Linked DNA regions of Homo sapiens. The protein of the gene in region 1 interacts with the protein of each later gene in a pairwise test. Each region holds a gene or a part of one and is shown on either strand. Other genes may lie near its edges.

Region 1 (8,125 bases):
AGCGAGACTCCATCTCAAAAAATAGATAAATAAATAAAAATTTAAAAATTTTTTAAAAAGCCATATGTAGTCAGACACTTCCAAATTTATATCTCAGTCTGGGTTTTTCTCCCCAAACTCTAGATTTGTATATTACTATTTACTGCATCTTCACTTGAATGCTTGATAGACATCTTAAATGTAACACATCTGAAATGGAATCCTCTCTGCCACAGCTTGGCCCATCTCAGTTGATGGCAACTCTATCTTTCCAGTTGTTCAGGCCAAAATCTCAGGTTCACTCTCGACTTCTCTTTCCCTCCGCATTGCTACCCTGGTATGAACCATCATCTTCTCTAGCCCAGATGCTGCAGCAGTCTCCTAAACGGTCTTCCTACTTCTCACCTTGCCCCCTACAGTCTATTCTCATCACAGAGGTCAACGTGATCCCTTAAAAATACAAGTCAGATTGTTTGGCTCCTCTGTTCAGATCTCTGTACTGATTCTTGCCCCATTTTATGCAAACTCAAAACTACAGTGGCTTTAGAGATCTATGTCATCTTTGCCTCCCTTCTTATCTCATCACCTCTTTGATCTCATGTACTACTCCTGTTCAGCTCACTGGCCTCCTGATTGTTTCTTGAGCATACCATGCCTTAGGGCCTTTTCACTGGCTACTGCCTCTGGCTGGAAGCTACCTCCTCACCTTCCCCACCCTACTCCAGGAGCTAACTCTCTCACTTCTCTCAAGTCTTTGCCCAGATGGCACCTTCTCAAGGAGATGTACCACAACAACCTATTTAAAATTGCAACTCCCTCTCCATCACATATTTACCAACCCCTTACCTTCTTCTATTATTTTTTCCATAGCATTTGCCAACTTCTAACATATTATCTAATTTACTTACTTATTATGGCCCTTGTTAATTGTCTCCCACGACCTCAGAAAAACTATAAGCCCCACTGGTCCCCTTCATGCTAACTACTCCCCAGACACAAATACTCTACTTTTGCTTTTAGCTGTTTCTTCTGGTAATCACCTTCATATGTCTAAAGCACCTTCTTATATTTTTTCCAGTTTTAGATATTACTTATTGACTCATAAGGATTTAGGAATATAGATTTCACTTTTTTATACCACCCATCCCACACACACACCTCCAAAGTTCTTCATTTCATCCTTCCAATGTATTGATTTCACTCATTCTGGTTAAATAAATATTCAGTATTACATTAGTATAACCATGTAAACATTATAAATGGTTTTCCACATGAATTGTGATTATGTGTTCTTTCTCCTACAACTTTTTGTTTTACCTGGACTTAATAATTGCTTCGGTTTTTCATTTGCTTCACTTTCTAGGTACCTATCACTAAATCATCCCTAAAATTCTCTACCAGATCTGAAAATTCCCCTGAGTACAACTACACACATCAGATAGTCTGTCCATTTCATTTTGGGAGCATGTTATGCCCCAGGCTTGATGATTAGCTGTTGGTCTGGAATTTCTTCCACTCTCTCCACGGTTGGAGTTCTGATTCCCAAATCTCAGGTCTCATCTTTCTCTTTCTTAGGTTACTCCTTGTTTGATAGAACATATCCCCAAATAGTTTCTTGAGAAAGAAAGCATGAGAGGCAAATTTTTTAGGCCTTATATGTCTGAAAATGAAAGCTTGGGTGGCTATAGAATCTATTGACCATCTTAATCTGTTTATTAAAAATCTTATTACAATTCTGATTTGGCCACTACACACTGTATACATGTATTAGAAAATCATTCTGTATTCTATAAGTATGTATCATTATTACTTGTCCACTAAAAATAAAAGAAATAAAATTGATTACAAAAACTTTCAAATAAATATGACAGTAGAAAGTTAATACAATAAACATTCATGTATTTACTCCCCAGATACAACAGTTGTTGTTCTAAACAAGGTGAATAAAAATAAATCTACTCTTAGATACATTACAGGTAAAAGGCAAAGGTTGATTTCTTTGAAATCAGCCGAAGAAGATTACAAGCAAAGGAATGGCAGTTAGGCTGAAAGCAAATATATCGACAGCAATAATAGAAGTGGGTATGCAGTGGAATAATCTTCAAAGTGCTAAGAGAAAATAGCTGTTAACACGTGGAAATCAAAAGTTTTCCAGGCTTGAACTATACTTTGTTTGTTTTCTTTTTTCTAAAGTATGTTAAAGCAAATCCAAGATATCCTGTTATTTCACCATCATTCTTTAATATCTCAAAAATACAGTCATTTTCTTAATCACAATGCCTTTATCACTCTCAATGATGTTAACAATAATTTTCCCCCATCGTTTTGGGGCCTTGCATTTACCACTCTTGTTCATTACTACTGCTGCTGCTGCTGCTGCTGCTGCTGCTTGCTTCTCCCTTGTATTCTATTGGATTGAGCAAGATTTCTTTATTCTCTTTCTTCTTTCCTACTGATTCGTCAATTTTACATTTATTTCTATCATTTCAATAGTTACCCTTAACATTTTAATATAAATACTTGACTTAATAAAGTCTAAAGTTAGTCATTATCTCTACTTTCCTTACAAATAGTATATAGATTTGAGAACATGTTAACACTGTAACTATCTTACATGAAAATGCTGCCAGAATTTTGTTTCATTTTGCTTTCATACTACCCCTCTTTACTGATTATTGTTGTTATTTATGTAACTCATGCCTGTTTAGATATACTCACATGTTTTTGTTTTTGCTTTTTTTCTTTCTTTCTTTCTTTTTTTTTTTGAGACAAAAGTCTCACTCTGTTGCCTGGGCTTGAGTGCAGTGGCACGATCTTGGCTCACTGCAGCCTTCGCCTCCTGGGTTCAAGCAGTTCTCCTGCCTCAGCCTCTCAAGTAGCTGGTACTACAGGTGTGTGCCACCACGTCTGGCTAATTTTTGTATTTTTAGTAGAGATGGGCTTTTCCATGTTGGCCAAGCTGGTCTTGAACTCCTGACCTCACATAATCTGCCCACCTCGGCCTCCCAAAGTGCTAGGATTACAGGCATGAGCTACTGTGCCCGGCTGGATATACTCACAAGTTTACCCTTCTCTTTACTCACATTCTTCCTTGGATCCTAAGCTTTCCTTCTGGGTATGATTTCTCTCTTCCTGAAATACATCTCAGTAGCTTCTTCACCAAGAACCTTGAGTAGTAAATCTTTAGTTGCCTGAAAATAAGCTTTTTGTTTTTTGCATCCATGAATGATAGTTTAGCTGGATATCAAAATCTAGATTAACAGCTATTTTCTCTTATCATTTTGAAGATTATTCCACTGCCATCCCACTTCTGTTATTGCTGTTGATGTATTTTCTTCCAGCCTAATTGCCATTCCTTTGTACGTAATCTTTATATTTGGTTGATTTCAAGATCCTCTTTGCCTTTTACCTGTAACGTGTTTAAGAGTAGTTTTATTTTTATTCATTCTGTTCAGAACAATGTACTCAAATGTGTTTGCTTTTCTCCTGCTCAGGATTTCTCTTTCCTTAATATAAAGATTTATGTCACTAATCAGGCCTGAAAATTCTCATCTATTATCTCTTTGAATTCCCAACATTCCCCAACTCTCCCACATTCTCTCAACTCTCCTTCTGGAACATAACACATGTATATTAAGCATTCTCATTCTAGCTTCATGACTCTCTTTTTTTTCATGACTCTCCTTTTTTTTCATTTCTCTCTTTTAATCGCCTTATGTCTCTTAACCTTTCATATTTTCTCTATTTCTATCTCTTATATTCTGGGTAATTTCCTGAAATTATCTCCAAGTTCATTCATTCTTTCTTGGCCAAATCTAATTTTCTGTTTTTAGCCCATCCATTTAGGTTCAATACCTGCATTTTTCATGTCTAGAAGTTCAATTTATCTTTCTTTCAAATTTGCCTATTTTTGTTCTCACTACAAAAAAAAGATAGGTATGTGAAGTGATTGATATGTTAATTAACTTGATTTAATCATCCCACAATGTATATATATATTAAAATATCACATTGTACCCCATAAATATATAAAGTTATTATTTGTTAATTACAAATTAGAAAATTTCAAATTTACCTGTTCTGTTTTTCATGAGATGTTATTCTTTTCCCAGATTTAATCATTTTTAATTAATTTATTTTACAGTCTCTATCCTATAGTTGCATTACCTGAACTTCTTGGAGGCTAATCTGACTACTTTTGTGTCTGTGACTCTTACTCAAGGTGGATTGCTTCCTTGTGTGTTTGTAATTTTGGATTGTGAGTTTCTATCTGGTGGGACTCTACCTATGAGGATCCTCTATGACCTATTTTGAGGCTGTTGTCCCTCCAGAGGAATTTTGTGATTGCTTCTGCCAGACATCTCAATGTTTATGTTAATTCTTCTGCTCAGGGATTCCCAGACCATGAGGCCAAAGTAAATCCTAATCCCACACACAGGAATGGCATGGACCTGTGATTTTGAGTTTTCAGGGGCATAAGTTTTCATCTCCACACTCAAATACCGACCCAAGAAAGAAAAGCTTCCTTGCCACTTTCCTTTTCTCATTAGCTGATACTTTTCCTCTTACCCACCATAATTTATCCTTTAAAGTTTCCAGCTTTATGCAGGATCAATAGAGTCTTACTTCCAAATCCCCACCTGTGTGGATGGGACTTTCCTGTCATCCAAGCCCCTAGTTACAAAGTTGACCCTACATCTCCCATAAGCAGTGTCAACTCCTGTGCTTAACCAGTCCATTTGTGCTGCTATAACAGGATGCCACAGACAGAGTAATAATAAAGAACACAAATTTATTTCGAACAGTTCTGAAGACTGGGAAGTTCAAGATCAAGGCACCACCATTTGGTGTCTGGTGAGGGCCTTCTTGCTGCCTCCTAGCATGGTAGAAAGCAAAAGAGTAGAAGGCTGTAGCCAAATACTTCATGAATCCTCTTTTATAAGGACCCTAATCTCATTAAAAAGGGAGGACCTTTCATGATCTAATCACCCCCGAAGGCCCCACCTCTTAATACCATCACATTGGCAGCACCTGAATTTTGGAGGAGACACATTCAAACCATAGCAACCAGTCAGACCTTCATTCCTGGAATGCAAAATTTTCTTTCTTTCCTGCAAAGCCAGCTATTAAATTGAATGTCTGTCACATTTTATACACCATATAAAAGTGTTTACAGTGGGAATTTCTTGTGTTATCTAGTCTACTGTATTTTCTGACCATTAAAGCTGAAGTCATTTTAAAATTTGATATATTATTCACAATTGCAGGGTAAATGTTGTCCAGACTCAGAGTTTAAGAAACACTTTCCTGTTGGAAATCCAGAAATTCTTCCTTCATCTCTTCCAAGTCAAGCTGCTGAAAATCAAACTTCCACGATGGAGAAAGATGTTCGTCCAAAGACAAGAAGTATAAACAGATTTCCTCTTCATTCTGAAAGTTCATCAAAGAAAGCACCAAGAAGCAAAAACAAAACCTTGGATCCACTTTTGATGTCAGAGCCCAAGCCCAGGACCAGCTCCCCTAGAGGAGATAAAGCAGCCTATGACATTCTGAGGAGATGTTCTCAGTGTGGCATCCTGCTTCCCCTGCCGATCCTAAATCAACATCAGGTACTCAGCCTCTGTTCTCTGCTTACCTTTCTGGGAACCATCCGCACAGTGTCTTAAAAAAATCCAAGACCTGAAAGATGTTCACAAATGTTGTGGCTGAAAAGGCCGTTTTCTCTGACTCCCACTTCTCTGGGTGCCCAAATGCACTATCTCGTAGCACTTACCACCTGGTTTATTTGCATCACCTCCGAGAGACTGAGTCACCTTTGACTCAAGCCAGGTCTTTGAAGGTAGAGCCAGGTCCCTCTTCTCTGTGTCTCCAGCTTCTAGGCCAGGGATTGATTTGGAGCAACTGCTTCAAAACTGTTGAGTAAATGAATGAATCAGAGGATACCCAGTCTATCTCTCTCATGGTGTAGATATGGCACTGAGGCCCAGAGATGAGATGTCTTGGTCAAGATCCTAAGCCAGTTGGTGGTGGCTTACCTCCAGCAGATCAAGGTTTGCTTCAAGAAGATCAGGGTTTGTAGGCATCTCCCTGAATATCATGATTTTTATGTCCTAGGTTATTTTCTAGTAATAATAATAACTGGCATTAGAGGTTGTTAACCATTGTGTGCCAGTTACAATACAGAGCTCTTTATAATCTTCATCATAAACAATAGGCATGCATTTTATCTCCATTTTACAGATAAGGTGAAGTAGCTTTCCAAGGAGTATACAATTAGAAGGTGGCAGGATCCAGCCTGAGTCCACATGTATATAGCTCCAAAGTTTATGCTCTTAAGCTCCAGATTAAATGCCTTACTTAAAAAATTTATTTTTTTTCAAAATACATAAGTACTAGATTTTGTTGGAGCTAGTTGATATAATATCATATAAAGAAGTATAAAAGCAAAGCTAACCCTAATTCCCCAACCCCATACCCTGAGATACCACTTTGGACAGTCTTATGGGCATCTTTTCAAAGCTCTACCTTTGCATATACAAGCCTAAACAAGCATATACTGGGTTTTACTTGTTTCTTTTTCCACACATATTATCTTACTATACTTTTTACTCTGCCACATGCCTTTTTCACTTAGTATATGATGCATGCTTCTTACAAAAGACTTAGTATGCCAAAACCTTTTTTTCTAACTTCCTTGTGCATCTATGTATGCACATAAGCATATAATTTTACAAAAATGGGTTCATTTCATATTTGCTGGGGGTGTTACTAGTGCCATTTTTCCTTGCCTCCCACAATTTGGTATATTTCCTTTCACAGTTTTCTCCATCCTTATATAACAGAGTCGCCAGATTTAGCAAATAAAAATACAGGACATTCAGTCAAATTTGAATTTCAGAGAAACAAAGAATTGTTTTTAGTGTAGGTATATTCCATGCAATGATTGTTTTGCTAAAATTAAAATTTAACCAGGACACCCTGTATTTTATTTAGCAATTTCTTATATAACCACCATACAAACATACACATTTGGAGTCCTGTTATATACATTTTTTCACTTTTTTTTTTTTGAACCAGTAAAGCTGCCATCTTTTTTTTTTTTTTTTTTTTTTTGAGACAGAGTCTCGCTCTGTCACCCAGGCTGGAATGCAGTGGTGGGATCTCGGCTCACTGCGATCTCTGCCTCCCGGGTTCAAGCGATTCTCCTGCCTCAGCCTCCTGAGTAGCTGGGAGTACAGGCACCCGCCACCACACCCAGCTAATTTTTGCATTTTAGTACAGATGGGGTTTCACCATGTTGTCCATGCTGGTCTTGAAATCCTGACCTCAGGTGATCCACCCGCTTCAGACTCCCAAAGTGCTGGAATTATAGGGCATGAGCCACCACGCCCAGCAACATTTCTTTACATCCTAATGTAAATTCAGCAATACCCAAGGAAATCCCTACAAACAAAACAGTGTGGCTTATTTTTATTAATGGCTGCCTAAGATTCCATGGTGTGAGTGTTCTCCCATCTGTCCCTCCACCCAGTGATAGCAACAGGCCCCTGTTAAACTTTGTCGCAAGCCTCCTATACTTCTGGCTCAGTGGGCTCCTGACCTTTTCTATGCCATTACACTCCAGTCTTTGGGCAGGGCTCATGCTCTGTAACAAGGGACAGCAATATCCAGAGATATTCTAGGAGCTAGCACTTCTTACTTTAACCATATCAAACTTTTTTTATATCCATTTCTTAGGAGAAATGCCGGTGGTTAGCTTCATCAAAAGGAAAACAAGTGAGAAATTTCAGCTAGATTTGGAAAAGGAAAGGTACTACAAATTCAAAAGATTTCACTTTTAACACTGGCATTCCTGCCTACTTGCTGTGGTGGTCTTGTGAAAGGTGATGGGTTTTATTCGTTGGGCTTTAAAAGAAAAGGTTTGGCAGAACTAAAAACAAAACTCACGTATCATCTCAATAGATACAGAAAAGGCTTTTGATAAAATTCAACTTGACTTCATGTTAAAAACCCTCAACAAACCAGGCGTCGAAGGAACATACCTCAAAATAATAAGAGCCATCTATGACAAAACCACAGCCAACATCATACTGAATGAGCAAAAGCTGGAGCATTACTCTTGAGAAGTAGAACAAGGCACTTCAGT
Region 2 (8,125 bases), on another chromosome or scaffold:
TGTCCTGTGGGACTTCCCTGCCCCCTTGTAATACAGACTGTTCTCGGATCCAGGCCTCCTCTATCTCTTAGCTCCTTCTGTTCCCCAAATTCAGAGCTCTGTGGAAGTACTCACCAGTTCAGCCACAGCACTAGCTGCAGGGGCGGAGAAGGTGGTGGCAGTTGGTGGAGGCTGAAGAGAAGGTATTCCTAGGACCCTTCATGCTTAAGGTCCACCTCCCCCTGCCCACTCCTCTCTAGGCCGCTGCACTCCAAGGCTGAGCAGCACCTCATGTGCGAGGAGCATGAAGAAGAGAAGATCAATATTTACTGCCTGAGCTGTGAGGTGCCCACCTGCTCTCTCTGCAAGGTCTTCGGTGCCCACAAGGACTGTGAGGTGGCCCCACTGCCCACCATTTACAAACGCCAGAAGGTATCAAACAGGGGAGGGAGTAGATATGTGAGAGATGGGGGCTTAGGACAGGGTCTCAGTGTCAGCCTCTTACTCCACTTATCTTTTGTTTACTTATTTCTTTATTTATTTAGAAACAGGATCTCACTCTGTTGCCCAGGCTGGAGTGCAGTGGCACAAACACAACTTACTGCAGCCTTGATCTCCCGAGCTCAAGTGATCCTCCCATCTTAGCCTCGCAGAACACTAAGATTATAGATGTGAGCCACCGCACTCAGCCCTATCTATCTATCTATCTATCTATCTATCTATCTATCTATCATATTTTGAGATGGAGTCTCGCTCTGTCGCCCAGGCTGGAGTGCAGTGGTGCAGTCTTGGCTCACAGCAACCTCAGCCTCCCGGGTTCAAGCTGTTCTTATGCCTCAGCCTTCCAAGTACCTGGGATTACAGGCATGTGCCACCACACCCAGCTTTTTTGTTTTTTGGTTTTTTTTTGACTCCTGGCCTCATGTGATCCGTCCACCTTGGCCTCCCAGAGTGCTGGAATTACAGGTGTGAGCCACTGCGCCCAGCTCCATTTATTTATTTTTTAAGAGATGTGGGGATCTCTGTCGCGCAGGCTGGAATGCACTGGTATGATTGTGATTCACTGCAGCAGCCTTGAACTCCTGGGCTCAAGTGATCCCTACCACCTCAATCTCCCAAGTAGCTGGAACTACAGGCATGTGCCACCATGACCAGCTAATTATTTTATTTTATTTATTTATTTATTTGTTTATTTATTTATTTTGAGATGGAGTTTTGCTCTTGTTGCCCAGGCTGGAGTGCAATGGCACGATCTCGGCTCACTGTAACCTCTGCCTCGCAGGTTCAAGCAATTCTCCTGCCTCAGCCTCCAGAGTAGCTGGGATTATAGGCGCCTACCACCATGTCCAGCTAATTTTTTGTATTTTTAGTAGAGACGGGGCTTCACCATGTTGGCCAGGCTGGTCTGGAACTCCTGACCTCAGGTGATCCACCCACCTTGGCCTCCCAAATGCTGGGATTACAGGCGTGAGCCCCTGCGCCCGAACCTAATTTTTTATTTTTACATAGAGACAGGGTCTCAGGCAGGGCACAGTGACTCACACTTGTAATCCTTTGGGAGGATACTACTAATAATAATATTTATTAGTAGTAGTAGTACTAATAATAATATTTATTAGTAGTAGTAGTACTAATAATACTTTAGAAGAGCGAGGCAGGGGGATTGTTTGAGTCCAGGAATTTGAGACCAGCCTGAGCTGTGTAACATAGTGAGACCCTTGTCTCTACAAAAAATTAGCTGGGCATGGTGGCATGCCTGTAGTCCCAGCTACTCGGGAGGCTGAGGTGGGAGGATCACTTGAGCCCGGGAGGTTGAGGCTGCAGTGAGCCATGATTGCACCACGGCACTCCAGCCTGGGTGATAGAGTGAGACCTTGTCTCAAAAACAAACATACAATATTAAAAAGAGACAAGATCTCACTGTGTTGCCCAGGCTTGTTTTGAATTCCTGGGCTCAAGCCATCCTCCTGCCTCTGTTAGAGGAAAGAGGTCTTGACACAGACCCCAAGACAGGGTTATTGGATCTCGCGCAAGAAAGAATTCAGGGCTAGTCCATAGAGTAAAGTGAAAGCAAGTTTATTAGGAAAGTAAAGGAATAAGACAATGGCCACTCCATAGACAGAGCAGCCCCTAGGGCTGCTGGTTGCCCTCTTTTTTTTTTTTTTTTTTTTTTAGATGGAGTTTCGCTCTTGTCGCCCAGGCTGGAATGCAATGGCGCGATCTCAGCTCACTACAACCTCCGCCTCCCAGATTCAAGCGATTCTCCTGCCACAGCCTCCCAAGTATCTGGGATTACAGGCATCCGCCACCATGACTGGCTAATTTTTGTATTTTTAATAGAGACAGGGTTTCACCATGTTGGCCAGGCTGGTCTCAAACTCCTGAACTCAGGTGATCCACTCTCCTTGGCCTCCCAAAGTGCTGGGATTATAGGTGTGAGCTACCGGGTCCAGCCTGGTTGCCCATTTTTGTGGTTATTTCTTGATGATATGCTAAACAAGAGGTAGATTATTCATGCCTTCCCTTTTTAGAACATATACGGTCACTTGCTGACATTGCCATGGCATTAGTAAACTGTCATGGAGCTAATGGGAGTGTAGCAGTGAGGACCACCAGAGGTCGCTCTCATTGGCGTCTTGGTTTTGGTGGGTTTTGGCCGGCTTCCTTACTGCAACCTGTTTTATCAGCAAGGTCTGTATGACCTGTATCTTGTGCCGACCTCCTATCTCATCCTATGACTTAGAATGCCTTAACCATCTGGGAATGCAGCCCAGTAGGTCTCAGCCTCATTTTACCCAGCCCCTATTCAAGATGGAGTTGCTCTGGTTCAAACGCCCCTGACACCTCAGCCTCCCAAAGCGTTACTCCACTTAGTTTTAAAGTCAAGCAGGCCGGGCGGTGGCTCACACCTGCAATCATAGCACTTTAAGAGGCCGAGGCGGGCGGATCACCTGCGATCAGGAGTTCGAGACCAGCCTGACCAATATAATGAAACCCTGTCTCTACTAAAAATACAAAAATTAGCCAGGTGTGGTGGCATGTGCCTGTAATCCCAGCTACTTGGGAGGCTGAGACAGGAGAATCGCTTGAACCCGGGAGGCGGAGGTTGCAGTGAGCTGAGATTGCGCTATTGCATTCCAGCCTGGGCAACAAGAGCAAAACTCCATCCAAAAATAAATAAATAGGCCAGGCGCGGTGGCTCACGCCTGTAATCCCAGTACTTTGGGAGGCCAAAGTGGGTGGATCACGAGGTCAGGAGATCGGGACCATCCTGGCTAACACGGTGAAACCCCATTTCTACTAAAAATACAAAAAACTTAGCCGGGCGTGGTGGCAGGCGCCTGTAGTCCCAGCTACTCGGGAGGCTGAGGCAGAATTGTTTACCTGGGAGGCAGAGCTTGCAGTGAGCCAAGATCGGGCCGCTGCACTCCAGCCTGGGCGACAGAGCGAGACTCCGTCTAAAAATAATAATAATAATAATACCTAAAATAAAATAAGTAAATAAAAATAAAATCAAGCAGATTAAGCCAGGCGTGGTGGCTCATGCCTGTAATCCCAGCACTTTGGGAGGCCAAGGTGAACGGATCACTTAAGGTCAGGAGTTCCAAACCAGCCTGGCCAACATGGTGAAACCCTTTCTCTACTAAAAATACAAAATTAGCTGGGCATGGTGGCAGTCGCCTGTAATCCCAGCTACTCGGGAGGCTGAGGCAGGAGAATCACTTGAACTCCAGAGGCGGAGGTTACAGTGAGCTGAGATTGCGCCATTGCACTCCAGCCTGGGCAAAAAGAGTGAAACTCTGTCTCGAAAATAAAATAAAAGTCAAGCAGATTGGAGTCAAAGTCCTAGCTCTGTGCTTGACTTGGTGTGTCACCTAGGTATGTTACTGGACCTTTGTGGCCCTCACTTTCCTCATGTGTAAAATTAGGGTGAAAATGCCTACTTGTGAAAGTAGCTATAAGGATAAAATTCGATAATGGATGAAAGCAGAGACTTCAGTATGGTGGGTGAGATACTTGCAGGGTCCTCTCTATCACACAACTAGATTCTGTGTAAAACAGAATTTTCAAATTATATTGCTTGGTACATAGAAGCAAAGGAAATCAGTGGGGGTGGGGAGGGGCGAAGAGAAAAGGCGGAGCTGAAAGCAGAACCCTGAGTGGCAAGCACAGAAAAGGCAGCATTTCGCAGAGGACCAGTGCTGGCAATGTCACTGAGCTAGAGAGACCAGACTATTCCTCCAAACCCCTAAAAGGAGGGGTACCTGCAGCTAAGATTCCAGAGACCCGGCTGGGCGCAGTGGCTCACGCCTGTAATCTCAACACTTTGGGAGGCCGAGGCGGGCGGATCACTAGGTCAGGAGTTTGAGACCTGGCCAACATGGTGAAATCCCGTCTCTACTAAAGATACAAAAAATTAGCCGGGCGTGGTTGCAGGCCCTGTAATCCCAGCTACTCGGGAAGCTGAGGCAGGAGAATCGCTTGAACCCAGGAGGCGGAGGTTGCAGTGAGCTGAGATCACGTCATTGCACTCCAGCCTGGGCAACAGGGAGAGACTCCGTCTAAAAAAAAAAAAAAGTTTCCGGAGACCGTAGGTTAAACTAGGATCCTAGGAGCTAAAGCAGTAAATTGCGCCACCTGGCTTTCAACAGAGGCAAATGCAAATACTGCCTAGAGGAAAATATGCACAATTTAGGCCCGTAGGTATTCCCTAGATTAATTAATATCAATAAAATATTAGATCACAATTGAAGGTGCACAGAGAAACGTAATCCATGAGTGAAGTCAGCAGAAACAAAAAATACAGATTTAGGACCCCCCACAAAAGCAACTGAGATATTGGAATTATTAAATAATTGGAAGTCACTATAAATCAAATGCTTTTTAAAAAAAGATGAAAAATTTTAAAAACCAAACAATAATAGAATATCAAAAACCAACCATGTAGCTGGGTGTGGTGGCTCACGCCGGTAATCCCGACACTTTGGGAGGCTGAGGTGGGAGGATCACTTGAGTCCAGGAGTTGGAGACCAACCTGGGGAAATGTTGAAACCCCGTCTACAAAAAAATATAAAAAATTAGCCGGACGTGGTGTCATGCGCCTGTAGTCCCAGCTACCTGGGAGGCTGAGGTGGGAGGATCACCTGAGCCTGGAAGGTCGAGGCTGCAGTGAACTGAGATCGAGCCACTGCACTCCAGCCTTGGTGACAGAGTGAGACCTTGTCTCAAATATATATATATAGATAGATAGATAGATAGATAGATATAGATATACAGATATATATATATATATAGATAGATAGATATAAAACATTCAACAGATGGCTGGGCATGGTGGCTGGAACCTGTAAACCCAGTGACTAGGGAGGCTGAGGCAGGAGGACAAGGCCTGGTGTTCGAGACCAGCCTGGGTGACAGAGCAAGACTCCGTCTCAAAAAAAATTTAAAAAAAAATCAACGAATGAATTGAATGATAGATTTGTCTGAAAACAGAACTAGTGACCAGTATGAGAGGACTGAAAGAAAAACAGAACGTGCAGTTCTGGGAGATGATGAGAAGGCTGAGAGTGAGAAGGTCTAACAGGTCTAATCAGATTCCCAGAATGAGAGGATAAAGAGAATAGAGAAGAGGCAATATTATGCCAATGGATAATCTTGAAGACTTTCTCAGAATCGATGCAAGAAATGAATCTACAGATAAAGTATCTAGCCCAGTGTCTGGTATCTGGTGGATGTTTGGAGACTGTCTGTTCCTTCCCCACTTAGTGGTGGAGGGCTTCTCTCCACCTCCTTCCAGAATCACTAGAATGTGCTTCCGTACCTCTTGATGGTTCAAGCCTTCTAGATTGCTGTAGATGCCCTTATGGGGGGTGAGGTGGAAGGGCCAGCCCTCTCCTAGGCAACCCTGGCTGGGGTGAGGGGTGTAGCTCTAGGCCAGGTCCCAGCTCTGAGTGCTGACCTGTGTGTGTATCAGAGTGAGCTCAGCGATGGCATCGCGATGCTGGTGGCAGGCAATGACCGCGTGCAAGCAGTGATCACACAGATGGAGGAGGTGTGCCAGACTATCGAGGTGAGCCTGGGCTGGAGGGAGGGAGGAACAGCAACTGGCTAGCCTGCGGACCCCGGGCTCCCAAGAGAACTGCTCCTCTCTGACCTCTCGCCAAACTGGTCTGAAAGTTTCTGGGGTCCTGGGAGTGGTGGGAGGTGCTTTTGCCAGGCTGCTGGGTGTGCATTCCAGCTTTGCCGCAAAACTTTAATCCAGTTATTTAACTTCTCTGTGCTTTGGTTTTGTTTAACCTCATAAAACAGTGATGATGATAATGATACACCAGCTACCTCATGGGTTCTTTTTGAGAATTAAATGGAATAATGCAAATAAAAACCAGGGCTAGGGATATAGACAGCAATCAGTGAAGCTACTTTAAAGCATTGTGTTTTTATTATGGAAAAGATCTGGGCTGGGTTCTGGCTCAGCCACTAACTCACAGTGTCACTACGGATGGGTCACTTTCTGTGTTGGTTCTCTGTGAGTACCCTGTGCTTTCCCAGCCACCGGGTCTCAGCCACGCCTTCCCTCATCCTTGCTCCCCATCTTTTAGGACAATAGCCGGAGGCAGAAGCAGTTGTTAAACCAGAGGTTTGAGAGCCTGTGCGCAGTGCTGGAGGAGCGCAAGGGTGAGCTGCTGCAGGCGCTGGCCCGGGAGCAAGAGGAGAAGCTGCAGCGCGTCCGCGGCCTCATCCGTCAGTATGGCGACCACCTGGAGGCCTCCTCTAAGCTGGTGGAGTCTGCCATCCAGTCCATGGAAGAGCCACAAATGGCGCTGTATCTCCAGGTGGGCTCTAGGGGAGGGTGGCAGCGCTGCACAGTGGCTGGAGTCAGGGCCTTGGTACCTGGAGTCCCGGGTTCAAGTCTTGTCTCTTGCACCTGCTTGCCCCTACGACCTTGGGCAAGTCACCCCCTCTGAGTTCGTTTTCTGCTTAACGAATTGGGACGTGCCTTCCCACCTACCCCGCAGGACTGTGGTGAGATTCAGAAATGGGACTTTGCCCAGGTTGGCCCAGTGCTTACTCTCACCCTCCTTTTCTTCCCTGCAGCAGGCCAAGGAGCTGATCAATAAGTGAGTAGGCATAGCGGGAAGGGAAAGGAGGGGGCTGCACTGCTCCACTGGCTGGGGTGGGGCTTGAGAGTGCTGGGGCATTGCCAGCTGAGTCCGTGTGGCCACTGCAGGGTCGGGGCCATGTCGAAGGTGGAGCTGGCAGGGCGGCCGGAGCCAGGCTATGAGAGCATGGAGCAATTCACCGTAAGGGTGGAGCACGTGGCCGAAATGCTGCGGACCATCGACTTCCAGCCAGGTGAAGGAGGTGGCCGAGGGCCGCTGAGACGGGTTCGGACCCTCTGTGTGGGGGGTGCGGCGGGCACGATGGCCGTAAAGGCAGGGACTCCACCTCACCAGGCCTTCCTTGGGCTCAGGCGCTTCCGGGGAGGAAGAGGAGGTGGCCCCAGACGGAGAGGAGGGCAGCGCGGGGCCGGAGGAAGAGCGGCCGGATGGGCCTTAAGGTGAGAGCCGCCCGATGGGCCTTAAGGTGAGAGCGGCCTGAGGGGCTTGGGGTGGGGCCTGGCTGGTGTGCTCGCGTCCCCTCCCCCAGTGATTGCCCTCCCTGCGGGTAGCGTGGAGCCCCCACTCCTCGGTGCAACCCAACCCCGGAGCCACAAAGGCGCGCCCCCTAGGGCGGAAAAGTACACTTTCCTCCTCACCCGCTGTTCCTCTGGGGTGCTGGGAGGGCAGGCAAGGCAGGCTGAGTAGAGGAGAAACCCACGTGGCGGGGGACGGAGTGAGCGGGGCTCGAGCTGCCTCGTGCCTTCGCAGCACCCGCCCACCGAGCCTTCTTTCCCGGGCACAGGCCTGCGCCGACCCGACCCTGCTCGAGAGCCCGCGCTAGAGTCGGGGAGGATCTGCGCAGAGACCGCAGCATCACCCAAATCGGCGCCGGCCCCGGGAGGATCTCAATAAAGAACTCGAGCGTCCCAGACCCGTATCTCCTTTCGCTGCCCAACCCCGCAGCCTGGGCTTCGAAGGCGACCCGCCCACCATCCTGCCCTTCCCAGAACCTGAGACCGTCTGGGGGGCGGAAGCCAAATGAACCC
Region 3 (7,000 bases), on another chromosome or scaffold:
AGGAGCCAGGTGAGCGCTGGGGCTGGGGTCCCTGGACCTGCTCTCTCAGAGACTTGCAGAGTGGCCCTCCAGGGCGGCAGGTCGCAGCAGTTGAGGTTTGAACCCCAGCTCCTTGGCTTGCTAGCCCAACAAGAGGTCGAGGCCTTGCCCTCAGAACCTCCCTTTGCTCCCAGCCTTGTGTCGGGGCTGCTGGGAGGGTGTCTAGAGACCTCCTATTCCGGGGTCTGGCGAGGGTCTTGCCAGCGAGGCGGGTCTCCACCACGCCTGGGCCAGGGAGGCTGGTGCTGATGTGTGGCTTTGACTGCTCCAGCTGCCTCTGCTGTCCCTGCTCCAGGCAGGACTTCCCCACTGGGAAAAGCAGCCGGCGCAGGCCCCAGCGCTCCTACAGCTCAGACAGACAGAGGCGTCTCAGGGGCATATAGTATTTCCCCCAGAAGAGGGCAGGGGGAGCTGTGAGCCACGGTGGTCCTGACGCCTGCTGAAAAGTGACCTCGGCCCAGGAGGAGGCGGTCCTCCTCTTAGACCCTCCCTCATGTGACAAGATACCCCCCACCCCCCGCAGGCCGGCTGCTGACCTTCAAGCCTTGGGCAAGCCCACCTACACGGCTTGGTGGTCACCGCCTGTGGAGTGGGGCTGGGGCTGGGGCTGAAGTGAGCGTCAGGCTATGGGAGTACTCCTGCATCATGTTCAGCACACTGAATTTTGCATTTTTGCATGGTTTTTTTCTTTCTCTATTTTTCTTTCTTTCTTTCTTTCTTTCTTTCTTTTTTTGGACCAATTTACCTTTTTAATTTCCCTCTTTAATTTCAATTCCACATTGCCGGACATGAAGCTCATTCCTCTGACCAGGGGTTGGTGGTGTCATAGGGACTTAGGGATGAGGGTCACAGGGTCATGGGCACAGGATAGAGAAGTACTGGCTATGGGGTCTGACCCCCACCCCTGCCCAGGGCTAAAATCCCCTAGACACACCCTGGAGAGCCTGTGAGGGCCCCCCACATTCTCACTGCAGATGGTTTTGACCAGGTCAGCTATTGCCCTTAAACCCTGAGCTGAGGCATCCCAGAGAAAGGGATCTCTCCCTTACCTGCTCTGTGTCCTTGAGCAAGTGAGAACCTCTCTGAGCCTCAGTTTTCTTGTCTATAAAATGGAGGCAATAATACCTCCTAGCAGCCAGAGAATTGATGAAATATGATACATCAAGTGTGCAGCACAGGCCTAGCACATAGTAGGTGCTCAAGACATACCAGCTACTACTACCACTGTTACTCAGTCACTTCCACTACCCTCTGCTCTCCCCTGCAACAGCGATGCGAGGGACAAGAGAACTTGACCAGCAGGAGACTGGGTGATAGCTCTGTCTGTGCTTTACTCTGGCCTGAATCCCCAAGGAAAGCCCCCTCTCCATTGCACAAGCCTTTATCCTGATCCCACTCTAGGAGAGATCCTGTGCTGGCCTCTTGGTAAACAATTTTGGCCACAACAAGCACGTCCATGCCCCAGGAACGCGAGGCCATGAAGGAACGAATTCTTGTTCAAGCCCCTTGACGAGGTTCCCAGGCCCGCAGGTTCCCCTCATTCCAGAGCCTCCCCAGCCTCCCCAGAAAGGCTTCTTAGACCCACTTGGTCACCAGAGAGTAGCAGCACAAAACTGAACTGTGGTTAATGTGAGTAAAAAAAAACCCTGTCTCGTCTTCTGTTTAGATTAAGTTAATAGAAACTGAGTTATTGCAGCTGACACAGCTGGAGTTAAAGAGGAAGTCCCTGGACACAGAGTCACTCCAGGTATGTAGGGCTCCCTGCCCCTGCCCTCCTTCACGTGGTGAGACCCCCACCTGGTGCTCCCTCCCAGCCTCTGGCAGCTGCTCACCAGCCCCTGGGAGTCAAGGGCTTCCCCAGCAGACAGAGGGCAGAGCTCCTCTGTGGCTGTGACACCAGAGGACACCCCCCAGCCCCAGAAGGCCCAGCGCAGGCCAAGGTTAGAGGTGGTCAGCCTGTTGCGAGGCAGGAGGGTCAGAGGAAGGAGGGTTTCATTGCCAAGGCTCCCCTGCTCATCTCCATCACTGTGTCTCCTGTGCTGGGTGCGGGCCCGCCGCTGAGCTCCTGTCTCTCTCTGTAGGCCGTGCTTTAGGCCCCCAGGCACACATCCTCCAGGGCTGGAGCTTTTGGGTGTCCCGGGTTGTCTGGAGGAGAGGGCCCAGCCGCATCTGTGTAACTCCCTGCAGGCAGCATCTCTGGGGCTCCAGCCCGGGAGTCCTGCGCACACAGATGAGAGGGCAGCAGGGACTGGCAGCTGGCGTCCTGGACTGGATGCCTGGGAGCCGGGTGTGGCCCAGCACAGCCCTGCTGTGCAACTTTGGCAGGTGGGGGAGGAGAGGCAGCCCTTTCCCCTCTCTGAACCTCAGCCTCTCCAGCTGCAGACGGAGGGCTGGATGGGATGGTGTGTGAGGACATGTGCCTGTGCCAGGAGTTTGAGCAGAGCCTTCGGTCTGTCACTGTCCCTGTGTCTGTTCTCAGTGGAGAAGTCTCAAGCCATCCCATGGACTCCTCAGTGCAGTGAAGGGTCTGGGATCTGGATCCCTGGTCTCAGGTGCACCGCAGGTGTGCTGTGTGCCCTTAGACAGGCCTCTGCCCCTCCAGGCCTTCTTCCCCTACTCCATAAGATGGCAGCGGTCCTCCAGGCCCAGCCTGTGCCATCAGGCCATCGGAGAAGGCTGAGCTAGCAAGGGAAAGCCCTTTGTGAGCCTTGAAATGATCTCCAGAGATGAGGGGACTGGGACTGCTCTCAGAGAAGCTGCGGTCATCATGCCTGGCGGGTGCCCTAGTCCCTGCCCACAAGTGTGGCAGGGCTCTGGCTGTTGGGGCCCCCATGGGGTTTCCAAGAGCAGGCGCAGGAGTGAAGCAGGGACCCCAGGCTCTGGTTTGCACGCACCTCCATTTGTGTGGGGCCCCACACTGCTCCCCGCCATTTGCTTCTGCCCATGTGCTCTGTTGTCTGGGAGACCAAAGGCAGGCACCTGTGGCTTGTCATTTCTTTTGTTTGATGTTTCTTACCATCCCATTGTCATCAGTCACCAGGATCCCATGCCTGACTTAACCCCACAAGGAAGAGAGATGCGGGCTTAGGGTAAGGGGGCAGAAGGGCCTCTTAGCTTTGTCCCCCAACGCAGCCTGGAGGCATTGGGCAGAGAACCGAGTGAGCGGGAGGCCAGGCCCTTCTCCATCCTGCCACTGCGGGACTCCTGCGCTGCCGCCAGCTCACGGTGGTGCGGGGTGTGGTCTTGTTCGCAGGAGATGATCTCGGAGCAGCGCTGGGCCCTCAGCTCCCTGCTCCAGCAGCTGCTCAAAGAGAAGCAGCAGCGAGAGGAAGAGCTCCGGGAAATCCTGGTATGTGTTTGGCTTCTGTGCTCAGCATCACACAGGCATTTGCTTTTCTTTAACAGACTTGCCATTTTTAGAAACACCTGTTATTCAAGTAAGAGTTATTCATCAAAGAAAAACTGGAAAGTACAAAGGAAAATAATTGCATTTCCAAGCGTTATCTCCTGCCATTTTTTATTTGTTTGTTTGAGACAGGGTCTCACTCTGTCGCCCAGGCTGGAGTGCAGTGGCGCAATCTCAGCTCACTGCAGCCTTGACTTCCTGGGCTCAAGCGATCCTCCCACCTCAGCTTCCCGAGTAGCTGGGACTACAGGCATGTGCCACCATGCCTGGCAAATTTTTTTATTTTTTGTAGAGATGGGGTTTCGCTATGTTGCCCAGGCTGGTCTCCAACTCCCGGGCTCAAACGATCTGTCTGCCTTGGCCTCCGAAAGTGCTGGTTTTACAGGCATGAGCCACCGCGCCTAGCCTCTCCTGCGGTTTTGATGCATATTTTCCAAACATTGTGATGCACCTTTATAGCTGTTCGTGTATGCGCCTTTTAAACGTGGCATGCTGCATACCCTTTTCGAGCAGCCTGTTTCCGCACATTCTTTTCAAGTCATTAAACTATTCCTTGACGTCCTTTCTCAAGGCTGTCCGTGGCCCCTATTGTTGAGTATGTGGATTACTTCTGGTTTTTAAACTTTTCTAGGCAATGCTCTCCGAATGCCTTTGTAGTCGAGTATTCGGGAACAGCCATGAGTATTCACTCCAGACAGGACTCACTATGTCCAGGGCAGGCCGTTTGATAAGCTTTTGGCAGGAGTGGCCCAGCTGTCCCTGTCCCCTGATGGGTTTGACACTGGCACATTTTCAGCGTGGCAGAGGCCCCCTTGAGAGTGTCTCCTCTAGACCCAGAGGGCACCCAAGCAATGAGGACAGAGGCCAGGCTCACCATCTGGGGTGGAAAAGACCGAGTCGTTCCTGTGTCCCCGTGAATGCACCAGATGCCCTCTGAGCTGCGTCCTAGGCCGGGTCCTGTGCAGGTTTAGAAGAGAGAGACCAGCTGCTTCTGGAGCCCTGAACAAGCCAAGTGGTGCCTGTGCCCATCAGAGGAAGCTGCCTGTTCCTCACGGTGCCCTACTGCCATCTCCTACGCATCAGGTTACTTTGCAGATGGTGCCTTGGCGCTGTGCCTTAGCAGCCAGGTACTATGGCTGGTGCCCCTGCCCTTGTAGGCCTTGGGGGTCACCACCAAAGGAGGAAGCACCGCCCCAGCAGAACACAGCCCATCCGGCTCCTGGGCGCTGGAAGAGAGGGGCTGCAGCCCGGGAGGGCCAACGACGGAAGGGAGCAGTGGGCGTGGCCAGGTCCAGGAGGGGCCCGCAAAGGGCAGTCAGGCCCAGCAGGGATTGAGAAACGCCTGTGTTGATCCCACTCCCCATGTCATGCCAGCCCTCACTGAACAGCTCCGTTGTTCTGAGCACGGGCTCTGGAGCAAGACAGGCCTGGGTCCAATTCCTGGCCCCACCCTGGGCAGGTTACTCATCACCCTGAACCTCAGCTCCCTCACCTGGGAGGTAGAATCTCCTTCCCGGAGTTGTGAGAATTAATGATGGCATCGTTAGGTGCACAGCATGGTCTGGCACATGGCACTGTGAACATGTCAGCTACGCCTGTTGTCACCGTGGCTGTTATCAGCATTGTTTGTTCACTGCTGTATTCCCAGCACCTAGAACAGTACTCAACGAAGAGTTATCGAATGGCAGAATAAAAGAATCACATTCAGGCTGGGTGCAGTGGCTCACGCCTGTAATCCCAGCACTTTGGGAGGCCGAGGTGGGCAGATCACTTGAGGTCAGGAGTTTGAGACCAGCCTGGCCAACGTGGTGAAAACCCCATCTGTACTAAAAATATAAAAATTAGCCGGGCATGGTGGCACACACCTGTAGTCCCAGCTACTCGGGCACTCCAGCCTGGGTGACAGAGCAAGAGTCCATCTCAAAAATAAAATAAAAGTACCAAGTGCTGTCCACCCGCTCAGAGGAGCATGGTTCATAACCATCATTTTGGTTTTGTTTTGTTTTGTTTTTTTGAGACGGAGTTTCGCTCTTGTTGCCCAGGCTGGAGTGCAGTGGCGCGATCTCAGCTCACTGCAACCTCTGCCTCCCGGGCTCAAGAGATTCTCCTGCCTCAGCCTCTCGAGTAGCTGGGATTACAGGCATGTGCCGCCATGCCTGGCTAGTTTTGTATTTTTAGTAGAGGTGGGGGGTTTCTCCATGTTGGTCAGGCTGGTCTTGAACTCCCGACCTCAGGTGATCTGCCCACCTTGGCCCCCCAAAGTGCTGGGATTACAGGCATGAGCCACCGCGCCTGGCAACCATCATTGTTATTACAGGTTTTATTACCATTTTGTGACTAACATTGCCTGCTTCATTCCTGGCAGACGGAGTTAGAAGCCAAAAGTGAAACCAGGCAGGAAAATTACTGGCTGATTCAGTATCAACGGCTTTTGAACCAGAAGCCCTTGTCCTTGAAGCTGCAAGTAAGGACTGCTGGTGCCTGTCCCGGCCAGGGAGCCCTGGGGACCTCCTCCCAGAGGCGCCTGTGGTGCCTCCACCATGCTCTGCCTCTTGTTACTTTTCTGGTGACTCTAGCATGCCAGATCCTGTGCCAAGCCCCAGTGGAGACAGAAGCGAGAGTAAGGGAGTGTTCATTCTGGTGAGGGGGACGACAAGGCACTGGTCACTGCTGTGCAGGGCAGAGACCACTGAGCCCACAGTAGAGCAAAGCCTGTGCCGGGAGCCACTGTCTGTCCAGCACCTGCGGGGACAGAGAGGCAGTTGAAACAGCCCCCTCTTGGTGGATGTTCAAGTTGCTTACTATTTTCAGGTTTGCAGACAGAGCGGCAGTGAACCCCTGGGCCTATCTATCTATCTATCTCTGTGTGCCTACCTATGAGTTTTTGTAGGAAAAATCCCGAGTACATTCTATGTATTATGTTATAAATATTCAAACCCTTCATTTCCTGTTGTAAACAGTGGGTTCTTTTCTTCCTTCCTGCTCATGGTACACGTTTCTGTCTTGCAGGAAGAGGGGATGGAGCGCCAGCTGGTGGCCCTCCTGGAGGAGCTGTCGGCTGAGCACTACCTGCCCATCTTTGCGCACCACCGCCTCTCACTGGACCTGCTGAGCCAAATGAGCCCAGGGGACCTGGCCAAGGTGGGCAGCAGCCGTCTGCATGGAGGGGAGGGGCACGCAAGGCCGCTGTCCTGACCAGCCGGGGGTTGATCTGCTCCTTGTGTAGTCCTCGTTGAGGCCTGTCCTTACCTAATGGCCCAGGGCCACCTTGCTTCCAGATGGCCAGAACACCTGCCCATCTGCCCCAGCCGCCTGTGTGTGCCCTGCACACTGTCTCACTGGGAAATCCTGGGGAGGTGGGTCCTGCTGACCTGATCAGACTGGATCTTCAGACTGGAGGGACAAGACAGGCCCTTGGGGCTTATCTGATCCAGCCTCTGCCCTGCCTCATGGTGTCACAAACTGTCGTGGCCACAGCACTGCCTGAGCCCCTGTTCCTTTCTGGGCACAAGCTGAGCTCTTTACAGCACATTAATCCACTTATTCTTCAAAACA
Region 4 (8,125 bases), on another chromosome or scaffold:
AAGGGGCAGAGACCAGGCAGTGGTGCAGGCGTCCAGCTGCATTTCCCACTTCTGACTCTGTGCCTGCTGTTCCCTGCTGGGAAGAAGGAAAGCCAGTGATGCTGGCTTGAGGCTGTAGTGGGAGGCCCAGCGGATTGTGAGAAGCCAGGTATTCCAATGTCGGGCTCCCCCGGGGGCTGCTGGTGCTGCTTCTGTCTCATTGACAAGCTTTCATAGGGGAGCAGGTGGGAGATCAGGGTAGAGGCCTTGTAGGTTCCAGGCTCTCTAGAATTACCTGGGAGTGTCACCTATAAGTGTAGAGTTCTGGGTCTCACTGGAGACCCCCTGAAGAAGATCCTTTGAAGGTGGGCCTCTAGAATCTCTATTACACCTATGCTTTCAACAGTTTCCCGAAAGTTTGGGAACTGATCTAGAAGGTGGGGAGCTTGCCTAGGTTTTGCTGTTCAGTTCTAGGTCCGGATGCATGCTGGGGCTGGACCTTGCATTATTAGTGTCACTGCAAATGACCCTGCAGATGGCCCCTTTCATGCTTGTCTCCAAATTTGAGTAAAAAATGTAGACACACACACACACACACACACACACACACACACACACATATCTTCAAGGGACCAGTTTTTTTCACTGCAGTCTTTTGTTTTACAGCTGCGGAAACTGGGGCCCAAGGTCATGTGGGTTAGGACTGGGATCCAGGACTCAAAGTGTTTCCTCTAAAATTCTGGTGCTCCTTAGGGTTGAGGGTGGTGGATGAGTGCTGGACAGGGGGAGGGGAGGGGACAGGACTGAGGTCGGATGCCTGTGTTTCAGCCCGGGCAGTGAGTGTGGATGGCTTGGCAGGTGAGCCTGCCAGAGCTGGAGGACCGGCTTCAGTGTCCCATCTGCCTGGAGGTCTTCAAGGAGCCCCTGATGCTGCAGTGTGGCCACTCTTACTGCAAGGGCTGCCTGGTTTCCCTGTCCTGCCACCTGGATGCCGAGCTGCGCTGCCCCGTGTGCCGGCAGGCGGTGGACGGCAGCAGCTCCCTGCCCAACGTCTCCCTGGCCAGGGTGATCGAAGCCCTGAGGCTCCCTGGGGACCCGGAGCCCAAGGTCTGCGTGCACCACCGGAACCCGCTCAGCCTTTTCTGCGAGAAGGACCAGGAGCTCATCTGTGGCCTCTGCGGTCTGCTGGGCTCCCACCAACACCACCCGGTCACGCCCGTCTCCACCGTCTACAGCCGCATGAAGGTGGGGAGTGAGGGTGCAGGGGCGGCTGGAGAGGCCCGCGGGGACCAGATCCTGTGCTCTCTGGTGCCATCACCTGGCACCAAAAGGATCCAGCTATCCTCGATTTCCCTGCAGCTGTGCCCTGGCGCATTCATTCCTTAGCGTTTGAGCTGCAGCTCAACCCAGGTGCCGGGGATTGAAGCCACACGAACAGGATGGGAGCTCCCTGGTGTCACGTGCTCACCCCTTCCTGTTTTTTTATTTGCAGTTCTGGTTTGTTCCTTTTTCTTTTCTTCCTTCTCCTTCCCTCTTCCCTCTTCCCTCTTCCTCTCCCTCTCCCTCTCTCCTTTCTTTTTTTTCTTTCTTTTTGGAGACAGCGTCTCACTCTGTTGCCCAGGCTGGAGTGCAGTGGTGTGATCATGGCTCACTGCAGCCTCCAACTCCTAGGCTGAAGCAATCCTCCCACCTCAGCCTCCCGAGCAGCTGGGGCTACAGGTGCACACCACCATGCCCAGCTCATTTTTCATATTTTGTAGAAATGGGGTCTTGTTATGTTGCCCAGGCTGGTGTTGAACTCCTTGGCCTCCAATGATCCTCCTGCCTGGGCCTCCCAAAGTGCTGGAATTATAGGCATGCACCACTGCCCTAGGCCCCTTGTTTGTGTCTGGACACTCCCCTGTTTGCACTCTATGGTGCATGAGGGTGGGGACTTCATTTTGTCCCCTGGTGTATTTCAGTGCCTGGAGCCATGCCTGGCACATTGTAAATGTCCAAAATGCTGAATCAGTGAATTCCTGCCTTTATAGGCCATCACCAAACCTAGCAGATCATTCTTTAAGACGAGTAATAATAATACCTGGCTGGCTGTTATATATATAAAACACCTGTTATAAAACACGTGACTGGGTGGCTTATGCCTATAATAACAGCACTTTGGGAGGCCGAGGTGGGTGGATCACTTGAGTCCAGGAGTTTGAGACCAGCCTGGGCAACATAGTGAGACCCTGCCTCTACAAAAGTTTCAAAATTAGCCTTGTTGGCCAGGCACAGTGGCCACTCCTGTAATCCCAGCATAAGGCTGGAGGGAACATCGGTGGGGGTGAGATAGGGCCAGCGAGGTAAGCTGCGGCTGGGGCATGGAGAGGCCAGTGTGACCCGGGAAGGGATTTGGAGTTTATTCACAGGATGAGGGAGCAAGGCGGAGGCTGGAGGGTTTTAAGCCAGTGATGAAATGCTCAGATCTCTCTGGCAGAGGGGAGCTTTGAGGGTGAGGCAAAAGGACAGTGAGAGATGAAGGTGCCAGGACCTAAGTCGATGGGAACTGGGACAAAGGCCTGGGGCAGACCAAAGACAAATTTCAAACAGAAAAAAACCCTGACAACTGTGTGTGGCAAGGAGGGTGAGGGACGGGAAGGTTGACTCCAGCTCTGTGATTCCCCCTTGCACAGAGGAAATGATCGCAGGGGAGGATCCGGCGTGGGCAGGTGGAGCCGGAGGTGCCTGGATATGTGCAGTCGGGTCGAGGGGTGTGCAGACCAGGACAGCGGTGGGGCTCAGGGCGAGAGGTGTGGAGGGTCCTTCCTCCTGGTGGTCACTGAAGTCCCCTTTGGTGGAGAAGACCAACCCAGGAGAGTCTACATAGTGATAAGGGAAGACACTGATGATGACCCCAAGGGGTACCAGGCTTAAAATCTGGATTGAGAGAGAGCCCTGAAAAAAGGGATAGAAAGAATCCTCAGAGCGGGAACACCAGCTGAGTGTGGCCTCCCGGAAATCAGAGAGACAGAGACTGAAGGAGATCACGTGTGTGAAATGTCTCTGAGGACTGAAAAGTGTTAGATGTAGCAGTAAGAACTGATTATCTTGGCAAGAGCAGGTTTAGGGGAGTATGGAAGGTGGAAGCTGACTGCAGGTGAGGAAGCCGAGTTTATGTTTTATTAGTTAATGGGAAGGAGGGAGGGAAACAGGCTGGGAGCTTATCTGTCCTTTGTGGTTAGGATCCAGCAGCCCAGCTTGGGTCCCTGTTTTAGATTTGGGCTTAATTTTGTTGTTGTTGTTGTTGAGACAGAGTCTCGCTCTGTCGCCCAGGCTGGAGCGCAGTGGTGCGATCTCGGCTCACTGCAAGCTCCGCCTCCCGGGTTCACGCCATTCTCCTGCCTCAGCCTCCCAAGTAGCTGGGACTACAGGCGCCCACCACCATGCCCGGCTAATTTTTTGTATTTTTAGTAGAGGCGGGGTTTCACCGTGTTAGCCAGGATGGTCTCGATCTCCTGACCTCGTGATCCACCCGCGTCAGCCTCCCAAAGAGTTGGGATTCCAGGTGTGAGCCACTGTACCCGGCCAGATTTGGGGTTTGATGATCCCGAGGCTCTTCTCTGTTGCAACACAGAATACAACTAAATTGCACTCCTTTATTGCCCTCTTTTAGGTGTTCCCGTTGCCTCCTGTTTATTGAGATTTTGAGATGCTCGATTGATGGGTGCATTGATTTGCATAACTTAGTTCCTCTCACGGGGAAGGAATGAGTCCCGTCTGTCTGCCTGGGGAGAGTGACATTGGAATGTCGTTCTTGGGCCGCTGTGAAATATTCTGATGCCTCGTTCTCCAGAGCAAGGACTCTGTCCGTTTATGCCAGCAAGTGCTTGATTCTTTACGCAACTCCCTTCCTGAAAGCCCCTTGCAGCTCTCTGGTGCTTGGGCACGATCCAAGCCAAAAATTCTGTATATTGCATGGGTACAAACCGACGGGGGCTCTGGTCAAATCGTGCAGTAGATGGTGGTCCAGGGGTCCCGGTTGGCACCCCCAAGGCTAGGTCAGGTTTGGGGCCCGGGCAGTCCAGGAGAAGTGCATTTATGTCAGCTTGGGGAGGTCGCAAATCCGTGCTGTGTCCAAGCCCACCAGGAATGGATTCAGGTGTTTATGGGTGTGGGGATTCACCAGGTTTAACCCAGGCCCGTGTGAGCACCACTGGCCCTAGAATTAGCCTCACCTGGCGCCGGCCTTTTTGTGATGGCTCCTGATTAAATACCCACTAATTCTGGATCTGCTGGTGACCACAGAGTTCACCTGATGGGTCCCCTACAGGCAGCATTCAATCCAGGAAGTGCCAGCATCACATGGTGACTTCTGGTAGCTGTAACGTTTAGTGACTCTCTCCATGTCATGCAGAGGGGTGACATTGAGACCCTCTTATGCCTGGGAAGTTCCTGCTGTCAATGCAGAATATTCTTTAAAAAAAAATTAGAGATGGGATCTCACTGTGTTGCCCAGGCTGGTCTCAAACTCCTATCCTCAAGTGATTCTCCCACCTTGGCCTCCTAAAATGCTGGGATTACAGGCACGAGCCATTGTGCCCAGCCTAGAATATTCCTTTTTTTTTTTTTTGAGACGGAGTTTCACTCTTGTTGCCCAGGCTGGAGTGCAATGGCGCGATCTTGGCTCACTACAACCTCTGCCTCCCAGGTTCAAGCAATTCTCCTGCCTCAGCCTCCCGAGTAGCTGGGATTACAGGCATGCACCACCACGCCTGGCTAATTTTGTATTTTTAGTAGAGACAGGGTTTCTCCATGTTGAGGCTGGTCTCGAATTCCTGACCTCAGGTGATCCACTCGCCTCGGCCTCCCAAAATGCTGGGAGTACAGGCGTGAGCCACTGCGCCCAGCCTAGAATATTCTTGAATTAATTTATCTTATTTTTTATTTTTATTTTTTTGAGACAGAGTCTCACTGTGTCACCCAGGCTGGAGTGCAGTGGCATGATCTTGGCTCACTGCAACCTCCACCTCCCAGATTCAAGCGATTCTCGTGCCTTAGCCTCCCAAGTAGCTGGGACTACAGGTGTATGCCACCACGCCTGGCTAATTTTTGTATTTTTAATAGAAATGGGGTTTCACTATGTTGGCCAGGCTAGTCTCGAACTCCTGACCTCAAGTGAAGTCCCACCTCAGTCTCCCAAAGTGCTGGAATTACAGGCGTGAGCTTCTGCGCCCAGACTATTCTCGAACAATTTAACCTGTTTTGGACTCAAGGGTACCTGGGTGGCTCTGGTTCCCGCCCTGGTTTCCCTGGGAGTGCTTGTGGCCATTGGGATACTCCCAAGAAGGTGATCCAAGGAGCTGAGAAGGGGAGGGATCAGCTGCTCATGGGGCCATGGCCTGTTGCCTCCAGGAGGAGCTCGCAGCCCTCATCTCTGAGCTGAAGCAGGAGCAGAAAAAGGTGGATGAGCTCATCGCCAAACTGGTGAACAACCGGACCCGAATCGTCGTGAGTGCCCCTTCCCTCTGCCCCTGCCTGGGACCGGCCACCTTCACTTTCCTGTAGAACTCAGTTCTCATTGGTCCTTTACAGAAAACCATGCCTTCCATATAAAGCCAGAACTCAAAGCATTCCCAGGGCGGGGTGGGGAAAGCGCAAATCCTCTCAGGGGAATTCAACCCAGTTGTCGTTAGGACTGGCTCCAAGTTGGCTTTTGCCCTCTGTGTCCTTGAGACTGAGATAACCCAGGACTTGAGTCTCAGGGGGTAAACAGCTCAAAGCATGGGCATGACTCCTCCGCCCCTGTGCCACCTGTGTCTGCTTGACCTTGCCAGCCTGTCATGGTGCCCTCCCAGTACCTGGGTGCTCAGGCGTGGAGAGGCTGGCAGCCCTGGGCCCTGGCTGATCTCCCGAAGTGAGAGGCACATGGGGCTGGGAGCCATAGTGCCCCGGCCCTGGAGGTGGCTGTGAAACAGAAACAGGAGCCGGGCAAGATCCAGGAGCACTCAGCCTCCCTCATTTACCCTCCTCACCCTTGCGCGGCAGGCGGTACCAGCCCTGCCTGGTGGAGGCGGAGCTCAGGGTTCTGCAGGGAGTTCTGGCTCCCTCACAGCAAAGCCTGCTCGCCTAGGGCCTTCCTGCTTTCCTTCAGTTGTGGAACTCTGGGATATGCACATTTAATAGCTGAAATAGGCAAAGTGGGGTGTGGTGGCGTGCATCTGTAATCCCAGCAACTCGGGAGGCTGAGGCGGGAGGATTGCTTGAGGCTGGGAGGTCAAGGCTACAGTGAGCTATGATCATGCCACTGTGCTCCAGCCTGGGCAACAGAGTGAGACCCTGTCTCTTAAAAAAAAAAATTAAAACAGGCCAAAACAGAGCCTCTCCATTTGAAACGGGAGCTGGGGTCACCCTCCCCACGGCCACCGCCAGGGCTCCCCATGCATGGGGTGAACTCCCTGCCCGGCGCCAGGCCATGCAGCCTCCCCTGAGACTCAGGTCCCAGGACCAACCCGGTCAGGAAGGCCCTGGGGACACCGAGGCCAGCCAGACAGAGCCTGGCAGCTCGGCTGTGACTCTGCAGTGACCAGCCCTCCCTGTCCCAGAATGAGTCGGATGTCTTCAGCTGGGTGATCCGCCGCGAGTTCCAGGAGCTGCACCACCTGGTGGATGAGGAGAAGGCCCGCTGCCTGGAGGGGATAGGGGGTCACACCCGTGGCCTGGTGGCCTCCCTGGACATGCAGCTGGAGCAGGCCCAGGGAACCCGGGAGCGGCTGGCCCAAGCCGAGTGTGTGCTGGAACAGTTCGGCAATGAGGACCACCACAAGTTCATCCGGGTGAGTGGACAGGGAGGCGTCCCATCCCCATACCCGCCAGGGCCTTCCCCTTCCCAACAGTGCCCTAGCTTCCCACCTTCTAGCCTTAACCTCCCTCTCTCTTGCCTTCCAGAAGTTCCACTCCATGGCCTCCAGGTAATAACCTTGGAGAGAGCTCAGCCAGGGTCTGGTGGCTGCGGGCACGGGCATCTCAGCTCCACTGGTTCCTCCATTCGGTTTAACCAGCGCCTCCCAAGCAGCTGCCCACAGCTGGCTCTATAACTGAGCCTGGGAAAAACAGAGGAAAGTCATGTCCCTGCCTTCAAGGGTCTCGTAGATGGGTGGGGAGGCAGATGGTGAACTGTGGGTACCTAGAACAGCAGAAGTTCACTCAAGCTACAGAAATACTAGAGGAGGGTAGCTCATGCCTGCAATCCCAGTACTTTGGGAAGCCAAGGCAGGAGGATTGCTTGAGGCCAGGAGTTCGAGACCAGCCTGGCCAATGTAGTAAGACCCCATCTCTACAAAAAATACAAAAATAAAAAAATTAGTTGGGCATGGTGTCATGTGCCTATAGTCCCCGCTACTCATGAGGCTGAGGCGGGAGGATTGCTTGAGCCCAGAAGTTTGATGCTGCAGTGAGTCGTGACCATGCTACTGCATGATCCAGCCTGGGTGACGGAGCGAGACCCTGTCTCAGAAAACAAAACAGAATGCTAGAGGAGGAGCAGGTGTCTGGGGGACCTGGCAGAGGGGCACAGGCCTGATGGCTGAGAAGGACCCAGGACCTGAGTTTGCCAGGCAAGCCGAGGAAACGGTCCTGTAAAAGGGGGAGTGGCATGTGGACTCTGGTTATGAGTTCAGGGTGGCTGGGTGTAAGGCAGGATATCACCAGGAGTCGGAGCTGGGAGAGGTGGGAAATGGCCAGAAGCAACATCCAGGAGCACCGGGCATCCCTTGCTTACCCTCCTCACCCTTGCGCAGCAGGCAGTATCAGCCCTGCCTGAAACTTGCTCTGCAGATTGTGGGAAGAGAGTGGATCCATGTTCTAGACCCAACAAACGAACACGTGCAGTTCCCAAGCCTTCCTCACTCCCTGTTTATGGGAGACTCCGTGTTTCTCACATTTCTTTTAGTCTTAGAGACAATTTGGTCAGAAGACATGGGTTTAAATGAAGGGACAGAGGCTGGGCATGGCGGCTTACACCTGTAATCCCAGCATTTTGGAAGGCTGAGGCAGAAGGATGCCTTCAGGTCAGGAGTTCGAGACCAGCCCAGCCAACATGGTGAAACCCCGTCTCTATGAAAAATACAAAAATTAGCTGGGTGTGGTGGCAGGCACCTGTAATCACAGC

The links.
Region 2: the proteins of XAF1 (region 1) and TRIM54 interact in binary tests that used the Homo sapiens proteins (3 or more experiments, as listed by UniProt).
Region 3: the proteins of XAF1 (region 1) and LRSAM1 interact in binary tests that used the Homo sapiens proteins (3 or more experiments, as listed by UniProt).
Region 4: the proteins of XAF1 (region 1) and TRIM50 interact in binary tests that used the Homo sapiens proteins (3 or more experiments, as listed by UniProt).

The regions. Positions count from the first base shown.
Region 1 is NC_000017.11:6,765,397-6,773,521, forward strand, and holds part of XAF1 (XIAP-associated factor 1), read left to right. Parts: intron 1-1,955; exon of another isoform or gene 1,956-2,057; intron 2,058-5,246; coding exon 5,247-5,588; coding exon of another isoform or gene 5,589-5,645; exon of another isoform or gene 5,646-6,953; intron 6,954-7,716; coding exon 7,717-7,773; 3' UTR 7,774-8,125. UniProt on the Homo sapiens protein: Seems to function as a negative regulator of members of the IAP (inhibitor of apoptosis protein) family. Inhibits anti-caspase activity of BIRC4. Induces cleavage and inactivation of BIRC4 independent of caspase activation.
Region 2 is NC_000002.12:27,299,006-27,307,130, forward strand, and holds part of TRIM54 (tripartite motif-containing protein 54), read left to right. Parts: intron 1-239; coding exon 240-411; intron 412-524; coding exon of another isoform or gene 525-650; intron 651-5,953; coding exon 5,954-6,049; intron 6,050-6,578; coding exon 6,579-6,812; intron 6,813-7,074; coding exon 7,075-7,097; intron 7,098-7,207; coding exon 7,208-7,332; intron 7,333-7,450; coding exon 7,451-7,536; 3' UTR 7,537-7,537; exon of another isoform or gene 7,538-7,563; intron 7,564-7,881; 3' UTR 7,882-8,125. UniProt on the Homo sapiens protein: May bind and stabilize microtubules during myotubes formation.
Region 3 is NC_000009.12:127,489,510-127,496,509, forward strand, and holds part of LRSAM1 (E3 ubiquitin-protein ligase LRSAM1), read left to right. Parts: coding exon 1-9; intron 10-1,705; coding exon 1,706-1,786; intron 1,787-3,292; coding exon 3,293-3,388; intron 3,389-5,810; coding exon 5,811-5,909; intron 5,910-6,454; coding exon 6,455-6,586; intron 6,587-7,000.
Region 4 is NC_000007.14:73,317,488-73,325,612, reverse strand, and holds part of TRIM50 (E3 ubiquitin-protein ligase TRIM50), read left to right. Parts: intron 1-37; exon of another isoform or gene 38-148; intron 149-807; 5' UTR 808-825; coding exon 826-1,224; intron 1,225-5,370; coding exon 5,371-5,466; intron 5,467-6,538; exon of another isoform or gene 6,539-6,560; coding exon 6,561-6,791; intron 6,792-6,903; coding exon 6,904-6,926; intron 6,927-8,125. UniProt on the Homo sapiens protein: E3 ubiquitin-protein ligase that ubiquitinates Beclin-1/BECN1 in a 'Lys-63'-dependent manner enhancing its binding to ULK1. In turn, promotes starvation-induced autophagy activation.